Linked DNA regions of Homo sapiens. The protein of the gene in region 1 purifies or fractionates together with the protein of each later gene. This does not show direct contact. Each region holds a gene or a part of one and is shown on either strand. Other genes may lie near its edges. The genes, in order: AHR, SHTN1 and LDLRAP1.

The links.
Region 2: the proteins of AHR (region 1) and SHTN1 purify together in Homo sapiens (affinity purification with mass spectrometry; one large-scale study listed by BioGRID and IntAct). This does not show direct contact.
Region 3: the proteins of AHR (region 1) and LDLRAP1 purify together in Homo sapiens (affinity purification with mass spectrometry; one large-scale study listed by BioGRID and IntAct). This does not show direct contact.

Annotation. Positions count from the first base shown.
Region 1 is NC_000007.14:17,340,052-17,343,704, forward strand, and holds part of AHR (aryl hydrocarbon receptor), read left to right. Parts: coding exon 1-177; intron 178-2,869; coding exon 2,870-3,013; 3' UTR 3,014-3,653. UniProt on the Homo sapiens protein: Ligand-activated transcription factor that enables cells to adapt to changing conditions by sensing compounds from the environment, diet, microbiome and cellular metabolism, and which plays important roles in development, immunity and cancer.
Region 2 is NC_000010.11:116,942,594-116,946,246, reverse strand, and holds part of SHTN1 (shootin-1), read left to right. Parts: intron 1-1,228; coding exon 1,229-1,323; intron 1,324-3,653. UniProt on the Homo sapiens protein: Involved in the generation of internal asymmetric signals required for neuronal polarization and neurite outgrowth.
Region 3 is NC_000001.11:25,564,073-25,567,725, forward strand, and holds part of LDLRAP1 (low density lipoprotein receptor adapter protein 1), read left to right. Parts: intron 1-1,100; coding exon 1,101-1,135; intron 1,136-1,289; coding exon of another isoform or gene 1,290-1,344; exon of another isoform or gene 1,345-2,775; coding exon 2,776-2,920; 3' UTR 2,921-3,653. UniProt on the Homo sapiens protein: Adapter protein (clathrin-associated sorting protein (CLASP)) required for efficient endocytosis of the LDL receptor (LDLR) in polarized cells such as hepatocytes and lymphocytes, but not in non-polarized cells (fibroblasts).

The DNA.
Region 1 (3,653 bases):
CAACTTCCTGAAAACCAAAAGCATGGATTAAATCCACAGTCAGCCATAATAACTCCTCAGACATGTTATGCTGGGGCCGTGTCGATGTATCAGTGCCAGCCAGAACCTCAGCACACCCACGTGGGTCAGATGCAGTACAATCCAGTACTGCCAGGCCAACAGGCATTTTTAAACAAGGTAAGGGTGTTATCAAACTGAATTAAATCTTTCAGTGATTCTTTTTACCTTATAGACATGTTACACATTTTTTATGTCAGCTGATTTTAATCGGTTATCTACAGCATTCATGGAGACAGCATTTTTTATTATATCTGTGACTACCTTTTTTTTTTTTACAAGCCTGTACTTTTTCCAGTATGTTACTAATATATCATTCACCTGATTCATGAGGGAGAAAGATATCAAGGAATGAAGCAACATGAATGTGTCCTTAATATAAGATGACCTAAATTACCAGGTGAAATTAGTTTTTAGAAGTATTTTGTTTAAAATAGATAATTTGGTTTATTCTTTCTGGATTCTTTAAAAATTATATGGCTATTTAAAAATTCAAGCTTTAAAAAACGTATTGCAATTTTTAAGAATAATTTCTTCAAAGCTCTATTTTTTTATATATGTTTGAAATTGAGTTAAACTCAAATTTAAGTGTGCTTTCTTACAATGCCTCTGAAACCCTAGATTAATTATATCCCTGGAATTCAGTCCTAGGCACCTCCATGTTCTCTAGCTATTCCTCCACATTACCTCCCCTATCCTCATCTCATCCTTTAAGGTAGAATGGCTTTCTTTTCTGGCTTTCTTAAAAGAGGTAACTCAGCTGGCTTTCTGTCATGGAAATCAAGCTTGATAGTGCATTTTTGTTGTTTAAATGTGTCATCAGAATCCGTCTGGCAGTGAGCACACTTTAAATCTAAAAATGATCACTTAAAAAAAAAAAGTTAACATAATGTCAGTAACTGCTGTCTCTGGCCACTCAGGAATACATCATGTTTGCATTTATGCTTTTTCCATTAGAAAATATTTAGTTCATTTTAAAGTATATTTAAGTTTAGTTTTAAAGAATATCTTGACTAAAATTAAGCTCCTTGACCCCTGTTTACTCTGTATTAGAGTATAATAATTAAAAGTATGACCTGAAGCTTTATCTTTAATTGTATTTTCTGGCTTTTTCATACATTTTGCTTGTCTAATCGTATATGAGCTTTTTAATAGAAAAGGACAGTGAAAATTTTTCTTATTCCTTACATCCTTCAATTATATTAAAATTGAATAATATTCAGTTATAGTCCGTCTCACAAAATTGCTATGAAAGTATATTTTACTCTTGAGTAAAGCAAATTGTACAGAAGTTAATTCTGTAAAATTACATTTTGAATAAGGAGTTGCATGAGTACCACATAAGTTCTTTGCAGTGTTTTCCCCTCACTACTTTTCACTGCTTCTTTGTAAATAACCAAATAATTCTATAGACCTACATATGTTCCAGAGTACATGTTATTGAGCTAAGACACTCAATATTGAGCCACTGAGTAGCTGTTCAGCACTTGAAATGTGGCTAGTCCAAATTGAGATGTGCTGTGTGAAGTACACATTGGATTTTTGGATTTTGAAGACTTGGCTTGAAAAAAGAATGTAAAATATCTCATCTTTTATTATTGATTTCATGTTGAAATGATTAGTTTTTTCAGTAGCCGCATTACAAAAGTAAAAAGAAACAGGTAAAATTAACTTTAGAAATGTATTTTATTTAATCTACTGTAGCCAAAAATTTAAGTTCTGTATGTGGCTCACATTATATTTCTATTGGATTACACTGCTGTGTACAGTATGTTTAAAGAGAATGGTGACATGAATTGTGTTATGAGTAATGAGAAAAAATCATTTTAAACTCACCATTATCTGGCCAGGTAATACTAACTTTTTATTTAAAGAATTTACAGTGTTGCCATTCATTGAAGATACAGGTTATATGATTTTTACTATAGATTTTATATATGTTTTGGAGGATCTGTGAAGTAATTAACATTTTGATTACTGAAGCCAGTTATGTAGGCTTTACAAAGGTAGATTTTATTTGAAGCAATTAAGGATATGATTTTAATCTGTTTTAAAGTTTCCAGAACGTCCACTAACTAAAATATAAAGGCTCTGTAATCTATAAAACTCTACAGAGCTATACATCTTCATGTCCTTCCTTTTTATTTTTCTTTTTTCTACTAGCAGTTATAGAAACCAGATTCATTGCAGTGTAAGAAAACAAGACAGAGCATTTTCTTTTGGTAACTTGATTCTGTAATTAGAACTATGCTTTCAGTAGTATTCATTAATTAAAAGTATATTATGAATAAGAAATCGGTTAAGAAAATCATACCTGTGGTGTAATATTTTAGGAATATTTAGAAACATTTAGAAAATCAGAAGCTGCCTTTTTTGGAAAAGTTTTGCATTCCAGTGTAAGATTCCTGAATATAATCAATTCATTGATACCTATAACTTCAAACCTGGTCAAAGCAAACCTACTTATGATAGAGAATATTTAACTGTAATTTGTGACTTGTGCTGTTTGACCCATCAATTCCTACCTGACCCAAAGGCAATCTGAAATGAGACAGCTGCATCACTCATCTGTACCATGTTCAAAATTTCCTGTCAAATTAATGGAAAAACAGGTTATAAATGCAACTAATACATAATATGTCCTCAGTATGTCTTCACTGTGTGAAAGATTTAAAATTTAGCAACAGTAAAGGAACTTGAAGTTTACAACTCTCAGGGGTAAGATTTTAAAAATACATGTTAATGTTATTTACTGGCTTAAGATACTTGGAAGATCTATTCCAATAAGTTGCATCACCATTTTTGTTTTCAGTTTCAGAATGGAGTTTTAAATGAAACATATCCAGCTGAATTAAATAACATAAATAACACTCAGACTACCACACATCTTCAGCCACTTCATCATCCGTCAGAAGCCAGACCTTTTCCTGATTTGACATCCAGTGGATTCCTGTAATTCCAAGCCCAATTTTGACCCTGGTTTTTGGATTAAATTAGTTTGTGAAGGATTATGGAAAAATAAAACTGTCACTGTTGGACGTCAGCAAGTTCACATGGAGGCATTGATGCATGCTATTCACAATTATTCCAAACCAAATTTTAATTTTTGCTTTTAGAAAAGGGAGTTTAAAAATGGTATCAAAATTACATATACTACAGTCAAGATAGAAAGGGTGCTGCCACGGAGTGGTGAGGTACCGTCTACATTTCACATTATTCTGGGCACCACAAAATATACAAAACTTTATCAGGGAAACTAAGATTCTTTTAAATTAGAAAATATTCTCTATTTGAATTATTTCTGTCACAGTAAAAATAAAATACTTTGAGTTTTGAGCTACTGGATTCTTATTAGTTCCCCAAATACAAAGTTAGAGAACTAAACTAGTTTTTCCTATCATGTTAACCTCTGCTTTTATCTCAGATGTTAAAATAAATGGTTTGGTGCTTTTTATAAAAAGATAATCTCAGTGCTTTCCTCCTTCACTGTTTCATCTAAGTGCCTCACATTTTTTTCTACCTATAACACTCTAGGATGTATATTTTATATAAAGTATTCTTTTTCTTTTTTAAATTAATATCTTTCTGCACACAAA
Region 2 (3,653 bases), on another chromosome or scaffold:
CTCTACATATATACATATTAAATGTTTTGTTAAATATGTTTATATATATATTTATATATATATGGAAGACAGAGGAAATACCAGTAAAAGGAATCTCTTTATACTTGCTGGTACCTTACAAACCCATGAACATCCCTCTCTACTCTTACCCCTCCCTTGAATTTTTATTATTTCCTTTCTTTTATTTGTAGTTTTGCCAAATATGTCTATATCTCTAAACAGCATTGTTTAATTTTGCATATTTTTGAACTCTATGTAAATGGAATCATTTTTCCTGTAACCTTCTGCAACTTTTTGTGTTTGTGAGATTCATGCATGTGGACAGGCATAGCTGTGGTATGTTTGTTTTCACTGCTATATACTATTCCATTAGATGACTACACTAAAATTATTTTAAGTAGTATCCTATTGGTAGACTTTGGGCTGTTTCCATATTTCTGCTATTCTGAGTCATGCTGTTATAAAAAATGTTAGACATGTCATCTGGTGCACATGTCCAAGAGTTGCTTTAAGACACATGCCAAATGTCAAATTTTATCTTCAGTTTTTTTTCACTGCATACCAAATTTAATAAAACCATGCTTTAAAATTTTTACCAGTTGCCTCTTGGATGGGTGTAAGAAGTGTTTTTACTCTGCATTTCCTTGATTCCTAATGAAGATGAGCATCTTTCCACATGTTTATTGGCCTTTTGTATATTTTCTATTCTGTGAAATGGCTGTTGATGTGCTTTATCTGTGGCTTTTAAAGAACAAAAATGAATTCACTTTGCACTAATTTTTGCAATCTATTTTTAAAAATACATCACAGATGTCTTTCCATTTACTAAGTATGCTTCTACAATATAATTTTGATGGCAGAATAATATTTCTTGTACTACAATTTACTCATTCTTCTGTGTTAGAGTATTATGTCATTTCACTTTTATCAGCAATGAGGTAGAGAGCATCCTTGCAACCAAATGTCTGTATATGCTCATGTGTTACAATCTTAGCATATGCATTCCTGGAAGTGGGATTATTCAAAGTGTATGAATAGTTTTAGATTTTTGATTCACGTTGCCAAGTTGCTCTCCAAAAAGGTTTTATCAGTTTGTATGCCAACCAGGAATGCATGAGGGTACCTGTATGCTGGTATGAAAAATCTTTTCAACACTGTTTTTCATCCATATTCCTGATTATTTGTGTGACTTATTGTCTGGGTTTTTTTTTTCCTTTATCTTCTTAAGTGTCCATGTTAGCTGTAGAAGAGTATGAGGAGATGCAAGTAAACCTGGAGCTGGAGAAGGACCTTCGAAAGAAAGCAGAGTCATTTGCACAAGAGGTGGGTATCTTGTAAAAATCTTATTTTTTTTCTTGAGACAGAGTCTCGCTCTGTCACCAGGCTGGAGTGCAGTGGCGCAATCTCGGCTCACTGCAACCTCCGACTCCCTGATTCAAGCGATTCTCATGCCTCAGCCCCCCGAGTAGCTGGGATTACAGGCACACGCCACCGTGCCCAGCTAATTTTTGTATTTTTATTAGAGATGGGGTTTCACCATGTTGACCAGGATGGTCTTGATCTCCTTATCTCGTGATCTGCTCGCCTTGGCCTCCCAAAGTGCTCCCAAAGTGAGCCACCGTGCCCAGCCGTAAAAACCTTTTGAATTTTTGTTTTGTAAGGGACCTTGCAGACGACATATCAGACAAATTCTTGAGGTTGAATAAGAACTTACCAGTTTGAATTAAGGATCTGCTGGTTTAGGGAGGCAGATATAGAATAGTATCAAGTTCATTGTCAAAAGATCTGGGCTCAAATTTTGGCCATGTCAGTTACTAGTTGTAGTAGTGTATGACCTCTGAGCAATTCTTCAGCCTCTCAGGGCTTCACTTTTACCATCTGTAAAATGGACAATAATACAGACCTGACCAAGTGGATTTTAATGGCAAAATTTAAAAAAAGTGTTGTATAAACTATAAAATGCTATGTAAGGGAAAGGAATTGCATTTGGAGACAACCCATGACTTGTGATGGAAAGTCCAACTTGGGTACAAGATGCCTGTACATTTCAAATAGGCTTAAAATCTGGGATGTATCTCCATATACCATCTCAGATAACAGTATTATGGTATCAGTATTTCTCTTCAGCCATTGTGCAGTGCTGTCATTATGCCAGGAAGTTCTTCCACTGGCTGTGGAACACTGCCATGTAGTACATTCATTATCTCAGCGTTTCACCAGCCTACTGATCTTCCTCTTATGTTAGAGATCAGCTTTGAATCTCTTGTTCCGGCTTACCTGTTGACATGCAGTCGTTGGGTCTTCCATGGCCCTGGGGCTCATCCAGGGGGATGAGGAGTTCACCAATGGGCTAAACTCAAAAGCTGGTCTGCAATGAGATCTCCATCCTGTGGGTGTAGTTTGAATTTGTGTGCATACTGTAGGTTGAAGGAAGATAGCTCAGGAAATGTAAAACAGTCCTAGGTAGAGGTATCCAAGGCATAGAAGGAAGACAAAGCATGGCATTAGGGGAATGACATTTGAAAATCCAATGATGGTTTTGTGGGGGTCTTTCTGTGCTTGAGCATAGCTGTGCTAGCAGTGAACTCTACCGAAGGTTTAGGCCAAGTAGATCTGATTTGAAATATTATGATTCGTTTTATTTAGAGAGTTTAATGAAAGGTGAGTAAATATTTTTCTCTTATTACTTGGAAGAAAGAAAAAAGAATTGAAGTGTGTCAGAGCTCTCTGGAAAACGTTGGAGCAATATAAATAATGCAGTGAAATAAACAGTGGAGGGGGAGGGGAAGCAGGGATAATGTGAAGATGCCTTTATTGCAAAACTGGAAAGGTCGGCTGATTTTGACCTGAATAGCAGGTCTCATTTCAAGACATGTTCAGTTTTCCATCTGTTGTTTGCACAATGATGTTAGAATACAAAGCAGCTCAAAGAAAAACTTGAAGGCCATGTGGTAGCAGAGAAGACAGATGGAAGAAGCAAGGTTGCAGTAAGAAGACAAAAATGAATGATTGACTCTGCTGTTCACCTGGTCTTCAGTCTTAGTGGTTGGTGGAAACAATAATGCTGACATGTTAACCCAGAATGAGAAGGTAGAAGTTTGAGGAGAGAAAGAAAGCAAGAGCAATGGTACTTACGTTATTGGCAGCATAAATATTTGCAGTGGCACTCAACAATTTTACAATATCTAGATTCAATCTACACAATAGTGAGAAGAAAACTTTTTTTTAAAAAATAGCACCACGTTGGAACTAGTATATTTTCCTTTTTACAAAGTTTATGCATTCTCAGGTTTTCAACAGGTAAGTACTGCACAAAGACACATAACTTAGTTTAACAACAGAGTCCCATTCTTTTGCATTTTACTTACCACTTAGGGCATGCAGCAAACATCTTACTGTGCCAGACACTGTGCTGACATTGGGAATCCAGTGGTGAAGAAAGCAAATGTGAGCCCTACCCTCTTGGAGCTTATAGTCTAGAGCCTTAGAAATCAATTTTTAAGGTTAATTTACTTTATATTTTTAATTAAAAAGGAGTATGTGTGCCTTGCACAAAGATACAAATATTTTCTAAATGTATAAAATAAAAATTGAAAGTTACCCCCCATTCTTAACTCCCGCTAGTTCATTTAAAAAACAAAACCAAAAACTTA
Region 3 (3,653 bases), on another chromosome or scaffold:
AAAGGCGCCCTTGTTCTTGGTGTGGCAGAGCTCGCTCCTACCACCCCTCCCCCTCAGCCGCCTGAATGAGGACCCAGAGACTTGGGCAGTCACCAGCTTGGTCCCTGACTCCCTCAGGGACTCAGGGCAAGCCCCCTGACCTCTCTGTCTCAGCTTTTTCATCTCAGTAAGGGTGATGACCTCTGCCAACGGAATCTCCCCGAGGAACCTGAAATTTAATTTTAATTTTTCATTTGGAAATAATTTCAGACTGTGTTACAAAATTAGTACAGAGAATTCCTGTTCACCCGTCATCCAGATTCCCCAATTGTTAACATCTTGCATGACCACATTACACTGGTCAGAATCAGGAAACAAACACGATACTGTGCTGTTATATAATCTATAGAACTTACACATTTCTCCAGGTGCCCCTTCAGTGTCCTGTTTCTGGCCCAGGATCCATTGCAGAATCACATGTTAACTTGTCGTCTCTTTAATTTTTAAAAATCTGGGTACTGGGGGCTCCCCTGGTGTCCCTCGAGCCTGTTCTCTGCTGTTTGGGAACCACCCTTGCCACTTGCCCATCCTCACCAGAAGGCCATGGAGGGACCTCACCTGTCGCTTTTCTGCTGAGGCTGTGGGACTCCTGGCATCAGTTATCCCTCATGAACTTGGAATTTTGGCTTGGCTTTTGGAAGTAAATGAAGGCAAGAAAACTCCCTTCCCCACCCTCTTCCTTTTGGAATTTGAAAGCCATAGAAGTCATCAGGTCCAATGCCCTCCTCTTATTGAAGGAAAAGCTGAGTTTCAACGTGGAGCAGTGACTTGCCCAAGGTCTCACGGGCAGGTAGCATGGACCAGGGCACTGAACCCACCTGGGTCTCCAGACACCCTGGGACATGGCCTTTCTCCTCTCCCACGTCTCCAGCTTTGGGTCCTTGGGCTGAGATGCTGGCGATGCACCCAGGCAGGAGGCCTGCCTGAGGCCGTGCCTCCAGGCGCCCACCCTGAGCTTGTGTCCTGAGTCCCTGTAGCTTACCCAGGGCTGGGACAAGCCCCAGCTGTGAGCATGGGCTCCCCCAAACATAGTTCTTATCTCCTGCTTTGTTTTCCCCAAGGAGCTGGATGATGGCCTGGATGAAGCGTTTTCGAGGTAATGCTAGCTTCCTGTGCTGGGTAGGGGGCCTGGTGTGCGTGGGCTGGCCCTGCTGCCCTTTCTCCTGGGGACCTTTCCCCTGATTAAGAACACAAGCCACTCAGACCCCCTCCAGAGCAACAGTCCCATCCCTCCACTCAAATGCTTCCAGGGGCAGGGAGCTCACTGGGGAGGAAACCCCTTCCAGCGTTGTCCAGAGCTGTTAGAAAGTTCTTACTGTTGAGTCAAAAACTATTCCTGGTGGCTGCTCTGCCGCAGTCTGAGGTGAGCGAAACACACTGCAGCTCAAGTTGATTTCCTCCGACTTGAGGAGGCGTGGCCTTCAAAAATGGGCTTTTTTTTTTTTTTACAGGCTTTGCTCCCTCCACAGGTCTGTGTTTATGAACAGGGGAAGGGAGAAAGTGTTTAATGAAGCTCGTGAAGCGTTCCATAGCAGGGAAGGTCAGGCACAGTGAGGAGGTGTTTTGGTATAGCCTTTGGTGGCATTTCCCCGTTTTCCCAGGGGCCATCCTTGTGGCCCCCTGCAGCTTGGGGACATGCCACTGAGAAGGCTGTGGCTGAGGAGAGGCCTGGGCAGGTCAGGGTTCCGAGCCCTGGGTCCCCGTCTGTCAGGCCTCCCTTTCTCACTTGAGACCCTCAGCAGCCTCCTACAGCCCTCCCACATCAGGGGCTTTGTTTGGGGTTGGAGTCAGCGATTTTTGGTCCAGCGGGTGGGGACAGAGTCAGGGTCTTTGCCCTCCTGCCTCCTCCTTCCTCTTCCTTGCCTCCTTCTTGCCAGGGACTAGTGGAAACCCCTTGGTCCAGCCTGGGGCGAGGGCGACAGTGACACCTTCCCTGCCTCACTGGCTGACGACACCTGCCCTCTGAAGAAAATCTTTTGTTTGCTTTCTCCACATTATTTTGAGCATCATGTGCCCTTTATTAACAATTTTGAAAATCAGCAAAGCATTAAACAGAAAGTAACACCATCCTGTAATCCCACAGCCCAGAGTTTTGGGCTTAATTCATGCTAATCCTATACATATACATTATTTTGCATTGATCAGCTCATCGTATTTGCATTTTGGGATCCTGATTTTTCACTTAACAGCGATGTGTCAGAAGCATTGCTCCAGGCTGTTAAAAGCTCCTCGTAAACACCTCTTCCATTGACTGCCTAACATTCTCTTAAGGGAAGCTGCTATAATTTACTTGACTCTCCCCTATTCTTTTGGACATGTAGGTTGTCTCCCTTTGTAAATTTATTTTTCGAACAGCACGGTGTTGACACAGTTATAGCCAAAGAATCTTCCGTGTTCCCTCCCACAGCTTGTTCCCCACCCCACCCCCACCCCCGCTGCTCCCTTTACCAGCCCCTTCTCCTCTTTCCTGGGCATGTCCTGACTGAGCTGGGGCACAGAGTGGGTGCTCTGGCCTCTCCCGGGGGTGGGTGCACCGCTGGCTGCCCCTGACTTTTCTGAGCTGTTTGACTCTCAAGGGGAGGTGCTTTGATCTGAGGTTACTCCACCTCCCCTGCACCGGGGGCTTCCTTCTTGGGCCATGTGCCCTGCTGTTCCCCACTGGTGCCCCCTCGCGTCTGACCCTGGGGCGCGCCAGCCCTCACCCAGGCTCTCGGCTCACACAGCTCTGCCTTCCAGGCTTGCCCAGTCTCGGACAAACCCTCAGGTCCTGGACACTGGCCTGACAGCCCAGGACATGCATTACGCCCAGTGCCTCTCGCCTGTCGACTGGGACAAGCCTGACAGCAGCGGCACAGAGCAGGATGACCTCTTCAGCTTCTGAGGGCCCGGGGCCAGCCGGACACAAGCGGCCCTGACACGTGATGGACCAAAGCCACCTGCTGCGGGGGAGCCAGTTCTGGGGCCCGCCTGCCACCTCTCCCAGCCCTCAGCATTGTCAGCCTGAAGATCAGAGCTGCAGCCAGTCAGGCAGGGGAGAGATTTTTCTTTTAAGCCCTGCTCTTTCTCTGAGAACCAAAAGATGCCTTGAATATTTATTCAGTGACTTCTGGCTTATGCTCAGAAGCCAGTCTGCGTCAGGCACGTCTCCTGCTGCGTGACATGTGCAGTGCTGTAATCGGCTCCCGCTTGCTCTCCTGGAGCAAGCTCTGCCCTGGCTGTGGGTATCAGGACTGTGACCAAAGCATTTCTAGTCCCTTCTCTCTTTCTAAGGACCCAAATTTCCCTGGGGGCATCCTGCTTCCTGAAAGCTGTTGGATTTCAGTGATTTTTCCCCCCACCCCCCAGCACAGGAGAGCACCCACAGCCGCAGAAGGGGAATGTGTCCTCCTGCTCTGCTTCCTCAGGGCCCAGCAGGCGGGGGTTTGAGCCCTGGACCCCAGGCTCTTAGAGACTAAGGGGCAGCTCCTGACCAAAGACGATACAGCTTGGCACTTTAAAGCATTAACAGCAGGTGTGACCCTGAGGGCTCCTCCATGGTGCTGCATTGAGTCCAGCTTTCCTTCTGCCCTTCCTCCAGGAGAAGGGGCCCAAGGTCCCCGTGGATGGTCTCCACC